Linked DNA regions of Homo sapiens. The protein of the gene in region 1 interacts with the protein of each later gene in a pairwise test. Each region holds a gene or a part of one and is shown in the gene's direction. Other genes may lie near its edges.

What was found. The genes of interacting proteins can lie anywhere in the genome.
Region 2: the proteins of PIAS4 (region 1) and ESRRA interact in binary tests that used the Homo sapiens proteins (3 or more experiments, as listed by UniProt).

The regions. Positions count from the first base shown.
Region 1 is NC_000019.10:4,006,183-4,009,923, forward strand, and holds the start of PIAS4 (E3 SUMO-protein ligase PIAS4), read left to right. Parts: upstream 1-1,553; 5' UTR 1,554-1,578; coding exon 1,579-1,605; intron 1,606-3,741.
Region 2 is NC_000011.10:64,303,388-64,307,128, forward strand, and holds the start of ESRRA (steroid hormone receptor ERR1), read left to right. Parts: upstream 1-2,136; 5' UTR 2,137-2,349; intron 2,350-2,490; exon of another isoform or gene 2,491-3,741. Other genes in the region: CATSPERZ (cation channel sperm-associated auxiliary subunit zeta), read left to right, coding at 95-174, 386-452, 1,156-1,259. UniProt on the Homo sapiens protein: Binds to an ERR-alpha response element (ERRE) containing a single consensus half-site, 5'-TNAAGGTCA-3'. Can bind to the medium-chain acyl coenzyme A dehydrogenase (MCAD) response element NRRE-1 and may act as an important regulator of MCAD promoter.

The DNA.
Region 1 (3,741 bases):
GCAGGAGAATCACTTGAACCCGGGAGGCAGAGGATGCACTGAGCCGAAATTGCGCCACTGCACTCCAGCCTGGCGCCACTGCACTCCAGCCTGGTGACAAAGCAAGACTCCGTCTAAAAAAAAAAAAATTAGCTGGGTATGGTGGTGCATACCTGTAATCCCAGCTACTCGGGAGGCTGAGGCAGGGGAATCGCTTGAACCCAGGAGGCAGAGGTTGCAGTGAGTGGAGATCGCTCCATTGCACTCCAGCCTGGGCAACACAGCAAGGCTCTCAAAAAAAAAAAAAAAAAAGGCTGGGCATGATGGCTCATGCCTGTAATCCTAGTACTTTGGGAGGTTGAAGCGGGCAGATCACTTGAGGTCAGGGGTTGCAGAAAAGCCTGGCCAAAAAAAAAATTAGCTGGGCGTGGTGGCAGTCGCCTGTAATCCCACCTACTTGGGAGGCTGAGGCAGGAGAATCCCTTGAACCCGGGAGATGGAGGTTGCAGTGAGCTGAGATCGCGCCATTGCACTCCAGCCTGGGCAACAAGAGTAAAACTCCGTCTCGAAAATAAATAAATAAATAACAATTTGGTATTTCATCCATCATGGACTCTTTTGCACTGATTTTTTTATGTTTAAAGTGTTGGACTAGCCAGGTGTGGTGACTCGCGCCTGTAATCCCAGCACTGTGGGAGGCCCAGACAGAAGGATCATTTAAGCCCAGACATTCGAGACCACCCTGGATAACATAATGAGATCCTCGTCTCTACAAAAATAAAAATAAAAAATAAATTGCACTAAAATACTTGATTATTGAAGTTTGAAATCCACTTCTACGGGCACGAAGCCACTTAGCTCCAAAGCCAAGGAGCGCTTTGGAGAAGAGGTCCCAACTGGTGCAGATCCAAGGTTTCCCATGGGTGGGGAGGCAGGATGGGGGGGGCGCCTGCAAAGAGGTGAGGGCTGTACGATCTCCAAGGAATTTGGGAGCAGGGGTCCCGCTTTTCTCCGCCGGGCGCCCCCAGCCAGCTGGTTGCCGAGCCCACGCCCCATCTGCACACCAGGACCCGGATGTGCAGCGCGCGGGGTGTCTGGGCCCGTGGAGCCTGCACCGCGCTGCGCTGCAAGGCGCCTCACTGTACGCACTGGCGGCCGTTGCGGCGGAGCAACCATCCCCTGCCCGACGCCGCCGGGAGTCTGGAGACGCACCTGGCGGCCGCCGCGCGCAGGAAGCCACGGCACCTAGCTGCATTGTTGTCGCTGCCACCGCCCCCTCTCGCCTTCCCTCCCTAGAGGAAACCGAGCACCCGTCCCCACCTGCGCAGGGCTAGTACCACTTTAAGGAGTCAGGCGCCGCCGGGGTAGGCGTGGTCGCCGCGAGCGGGGGGGGGGGCGCTGGTGTAGGACGGACCTGATTGGCCGGAGGCCCGGGCGGTGGCCGCGCGCGCCTGCGCAGGAGGCAGCAGCGCGCACCGGCGGCGGGAGGAGCGCGCGCGGGTGCTAATTGGCCCGGGCGGCGGCCCCGCCCGCGAGTGGTGAGCGGTCACGTGACGCGACGGCTGGGGGCTCCCGGCGCGGGGGACGCTGGTGACCAAGATGGCGGCGGAGCTGGTGGAGGCCAAAGTGAGTGAGCGGTGGCGGCGCCGGCCGGGGCAAGTGGGCGAGAGGGCGGGGGCCGGGCCGCAGGTCGAGGTCTGCGCCTTCTGTCCGGGGCCCCACAGCGCGGCCGGCCCGCGGCTCGCCGTCCCGGCCCCCAGACCCCGACCCCCGGTCTCAGGGTGAGGGCGGGGGGCGGGGAGGCCGGGGGCGGGGCCCTCCTGCCTCACCCAGGTCTTCGCGCCGGGGGTCGCTCCCCCGGCTTCAGGCAGGGTCCCCCCACCCAGCCCGAGCCCTTAGGGTCCCGGTCCCTGAGCGCCAGGCCAGGGCCGCGCCTCCCGGTTGAGGCACCGTCCCGCCGGGATGCGGGACGTGTTGAGCTACTCGTTGCCCTCTTGGTTCCGAGCCGGGGTCCTTGCTTTTTGGCTGGTGTGTTGGGGGGAGTGTCTGCGCCTCCCCGCCCACAGGGCTCCCAGGACTGCTATCTGGGTCTCGTCCCCGCCCAACAGGCCAGGCTGGGGTTTGCGAGTCTCCTGCTCGGAAGGGTCCCCCGAGTCCTGGATAGTGTCCTGCCACCGTCCAGGTGGAGGAGTCAGGGCCCTGAGACCACCCCCAAGACACGGCACGTCCTCTTGGGGTCTGGAGTTCAGGCTCGGTCTTGAGCCCCTCTTCAGCTCCTGCATTGGTCCCAGAACCCCGCCCCCTTCCCGACACCGTCTCTCACACGCCGGAGTGGGCGCTTGGGGGAAGGCTGGGCCCTCCCTTTCCCTCCCCATAGGATGGAGTTCGGACCACTCTTCTTGGTCACAGACCTTCTTTATTCTCCTTTTTTTAATCTTAAATCCTGGACTGTGCTTTGGTCCTACCTCGTTCCTCTCGGGACAGAATCTGAGGCTACTGATTCTGCTTCAGGGGGCTCTAAACCTCACCTGTGCAGCATCAGATACTGTCCTCAAACCTTGGCTGCTTCTCCTATTTTCTGCTCTTGAGCGAGTCTACTTCTTAGGTCAGACACCCACCCTCCCCCTACACAGCCCCCAGAACTTTTATGCACCCCAACTTTGGTTTCTAAGGTCCCCTCTCTTTCTGCCTATTCTCTTTTGTTGATCTCTGGAGGGTCCCCACTGGGTCCAAGGCTGGCCTCTTTAGAACAACTGTTGCTGCTGCTCTATTATACTTTGGGTCCTGTCCAGGTCCCATGTCCCATAGATACCATCTCCTAGCTTGGAACCACTTTTAATCATCCTGGGATTGAGCTCAGAGTATCCCCATTCCAGGGGATGTACCTTCTTGTAGGTGCCTACCTAGAGCTGAGGGTCTAAAACCCTTAGAAGTGCCCGCAAGGCCACGGCTTCCGGGGAGGTTAGGGGACCTCTCCCTCCCCCATCCCCTTTCACATCTTCCCTCCCCACGGTCCTGACCTGTACGTATCTTCTTCTCGGTCCTCTCACATTACCCCCTGGGATCTGAAAACACAGCACTCAGGGCTCTGTGATTATAGCATATACCTCTCTTCGCCTCCCAACCCTACACCCCTGCGCACACTTCTGCTCCTCTCTAGAGTTTTGAAAAGTGGAGACTCGCCCTGGAGATGTGGAGGCCTGAACTCTGTAAACCCAAAGTGGCAGGCTCTGGGCTTGAAGTGTCCTGGAGTCCTGAAATGTAACCTCCCGTTTCGGGGCTTGGAGCTGTGACCCTGGACCCCAACCCCCACCCTGGCTGAGGGCAGGGTCTGCACTCTTTTGTACCATCCAGGCCTTGAAATATGATCTGATGAACTTTCCTTAACCCTCTGGTGGCTGGGCCCCCCCCCACCCCAATTAAATCAAGTTGACCCTTCTTTCAGGTTCTCTAAACCGTGAGCCTCCATTCAAGGGGGCCTGGACCCTGGGGAACCTTCTTTCTCCTTGAGTCTGTTGCTACCTCTCCAAGTACCTTAAATGTCATTGAAACATCCCCTTCTTTACAGGGGCCTTCCCCAGCCTGTCATATTCATGGCTGCAGATTCTGTCTTTTGGGGTGCATCACAGACTGCTCGGAGGGGCGAATGTTGGGGGTTTGTTGGTGAACTTTGAAATCTGAGACTCTCAGCTTGAGGCCTGCAGGCGGGTTTGGGGCAGGGGTGTCTGTGAGCTCCCTGAAATAGTCCACAGCGTTTCGCAC
Region 2 (3,741 bases), on another chromosome or scaffold:
GCCATTCCCTCTCACAAGGTGCCTACCCATCTCCTGTGCTCCAGGGAAGGCCCAGGAGTCTGCGGATGACTAACCCTTTTTTCTCTTCTCCCAGAAAAGTCTTCCTCAATGTCATCACTCAATATTGCGAAGCACATGCCCCATCGAGCCTACTGGGCAGAGCAGCAGAGCAGGGTTGGAGGGGCTGGGGAGACTGGGCGTTTCGGTGGGGTAGGGGATAGGCAAATTGGGGGTTGATAGGATATGAAAGTTGGGGGTGGTTGGCAGGGTGGAGGGGCAGGCAGGCTGGTTGGGGGTTTGGGGGCCACAGGGAGGAGGTGGGGGCATTTCAGCTGTGGGCAGAGATGAAGTACCTGGACGCCTAAGCCTCTTGCTGCTTCTCCAGCTGCCACTGCCCCTGATGGAACTCATGGAGAATGAAGCTCTGGAAATCCTCACCAAAGCCCTCCGGAGTAAGCTCCCCGCCAACCCCCAAGAACTCCCACGACAGATTCTGGTGGATTTTGCAGGGCTGGGGCCCAGGGGGGTGGGGTTTCAGGGTGCCTTATGTCTTGTCAGATGCCCTTGGCACTCACAAGTATTCCAAGGGCCCCATAAAAGTTAAAAGCTGAGGGACTGGGCACAGGAAGACCCAGTGGGGGACATGTGGTGATGGGCAGAGGCCTGGGCTCCAGGCTGAGTGCAGCCCCTCTCCAGCTGAGGGAGGCTTTTCTGTGGCTGTTTCTCCACCTGCACAGTGGGATGACCGCCTTGGTGTGGCCTCGACTGCCTCTGGTTGGGGAGTTGTGAGGAGCCTTTGGACAGTGGATTATGTGGGTGAACTTTTGCTGCTGTGGTAGGAAAGCCCAGCGGTGATAAAGGGCCAGCTGATGGCTTAGAGTGGGTGGCTGGTCCAGAAGGTGGGCAAACTGCTCGCTACCACCGCCCTAGTTCAGGCCTGCAACCTCTTCCCTAGCCTTGACCTCATCCATCCTCCACCTTAACACTCAGCACCCTTAGAGATGCAAAGTTCCCCAGGCTAACACAGACCTGAGTGCCCTGCGCTACTGCTACCTCGAATCATCTGCGGTTCCTCGAATCACACATGCGGCGCCCCCTGGTGGGGAGACCTTTCGGTTGCTCACTGCCCTGAGCCGAGCTCTGCCCTCCTCCTAGGCTACCAGTTAGGGATCGGCAGGGACCACTTCCTGACTAAGGAGCTGCAGCGATACATCGAAGGGCTCAAGAAGCGCCGGAGCAAGAGGCTGTACGTGAATTAAAAACGCCACCTTGGGCTCGAGCAGCGACCCGAACCAGCCCCGTGCCAGCCCGGTCCCCAGACCCAAGCCTGACCCCATCCGAGTGGAATTTGAGTCCTAAAGAAATAAAAGAGTCGATGCATGGTCCGTGAGTCAGTGCAGGACAGCCCGCGTGAGGCGGACGCACGTGGCCCCGCCCTTCCCCGTGACCTTCATTCGGTCACCGCAGTGACCTTCATTCGGTCACCGCAGTGACCTTGAGCTTTCTCCGTCCGGGCCCTATCGGCCCTACCTTCCGGGACTCGCAATCCAGGACTTATTGCATGTTTTAAGTCGGCTTCACCCACCCCGAGTTCCGCAGCTCTGTGGGGCTACTGGGTCTACGGTTCGAGTGCTCAGTTGGTGTCGCTTTGGGGGAAGGGGGTAGGGGGAACGGGGCAGCACCTCCCTCCTCGCGACGGCGCGCTAGGCTCCGCCCCTCAAGCATAGGTAGCAGGTCCAGCCTCTCCGCTCGTCCCGCCCTTGCGTTTTCATCTGTAAGTGGTCTCTTGGCTCCGCGACTGCAGCCTGCACCGCCTCGCCCACTCCTCTCGCGCGCAGCAAGCCCCGCCTCCTCCGTTACGAAAGAGCGCTTCTGGCCCCACTTGCTCTCGGCTCTATTGTCCCCGCCCTCCGCGTCTCCGGCCCCGCCCCTCCCAGGGGCCGCGTACGCATGTGCGCCGCAGTGGCTCGGCGGGCTGCGGGGCGGGACCTGCACGAAGGCCCGCCCACTGGCGCTGCCGGCTCCGCCCCGACTCGTCCGGGCGCGCAGGCGCCGCCCGCCCCGCTGGTCTGATTAGCATAGGACCCCGGGCCCCGCCCCCTGCTTTGCATGCGCACGGCCGGCCCCACCCCCGCTGTCAGCTGGAGGAAGCGGAGTAGGAAGCGGCCGCGATGTCCTTTTGTGTCCTACAAGCAGCCGGCGGCGCCGCCGAGTGAGGGGACGCGGCGCGGTGGGGCGGCGCGGCCCGAGGAGGCGGCGGAGGAGGGGCCGCCCGCGGCCCCCGGCTCACTCCGGCACTCCGGGCCGCTCGGCCCCCATGCCTGCCCGACCGCGCTGCCGGAGCCCCAGGTCCGGGGGCGGAGGGGAGCGCTGCCGCGGGGGTGGGCGGGCGGGGCGCGGGGGCCATGTGCGAGCGCGGCAGGGAGGCGGGCGGGGCGGGCTGCAGGCGGGGTCCGACTCTGGGGCCAGTCCGGGCCACGGTTGGGACCCAGTCGAGGGTCGGACTGGTCAGGGTTCAGGCGGGATCCGGCGTCCGAGTCCTGGTGGGCCGGCCTGGGGCAGGATCTGGCTCTGGCTGCGGGTCCTGACTCGGGTCAGGGTTGGGCCTCCGATCCAGCCCGCTCCGGGGCAGGGTTCAATCCCGCATTTGCCGAAGTCCCTGGGGCTGGCCGGGGTGGAAGACGGGGAGGGCTCTATGTCTGGGAAGGGGCTCTGAAGACCACGTGGGGGCGCTCGAAGGGGCCTGGGGCCACCCTCCTCTCTGGGTCAAAGGTCATCGCACCGGCAGGGGAGAACTTCCTCCTCCTTGGCTCTCCCCACTTACTTCCTGATAACCTGGTAGAGGTCTCCCGCGGGCGGGGAGGGGGAGGCGTAGCAACTTTAGGCAACTTCCCAAAGGTGTGCGCAGGTTGGGGGCGGGACGCGGCGCCCCGGGAGGTGGCGGCCTCTGCGACAGCGGGAGTATAAGAGTGGACCTGCAGGCTGGTCGCGAGGAGGTGGAGCGGCGCCCGCCGTGTGCCTGGGACCGGCATGCTGGGGCAGGAGGGCAGCCGCGTGTCAGGTGTGAAAAGCTCTGGAGGTGTTTTCATGAGTCCGTGCCTGTGCGTGTGGATGTGGGGAGACCTAGTGAGAGTGTGTGTGATCATGAGCCTTGACTGAGTTCGTGGATGGGGTGTGCGCTCCAGGAGAAGTGTGTGAGCACAAGTGTGAGCAGGAGTGAGCACGGGTTTGGGAAGGCCGGTGCAAGTGTGAAAGCCCTCAGCAGAGAGCGAGCCTGCGTGGGCTTGTGGGGCTCCTGAGCACCCCGGTGAGTGGAGTGTGTGAACTCGGTGTGAGCACGTCCACTGGCCTTGGGTCTGCTCTCCAATGCAGAATACCCAGATGAGGGCAGGGTCTCAGAGGTCCCCCCAACATCTGGAGAAAACTGGGAAGTATCCTGCTCCTGGCTAGGGATTCCAGGTGGGGTTGAAGGTTGCCTGGGGGCTACGGTTACCCTGCTCCCTGGCCTGGGTGGGAGTAGGGGCTTTCTAAGCCTCCCCCAGGTTCCCAAGGGGGAGACCTGCTGTCAGTTACTGGCCCTGAAGACTCTGTTTCCATGGCAACAGCTAGGAGGGGGCAGTGTTCCTGGGCAGTCCTTCCTTGGACTCTGCCCCCCTTCTTCCCCACTTGCTGGGCTTGGAAGCCTGGCCCTAGGCCCGAGGTTGGGCAACCCGTGTGGCAGGGTGTCTCCCATCCCCCATA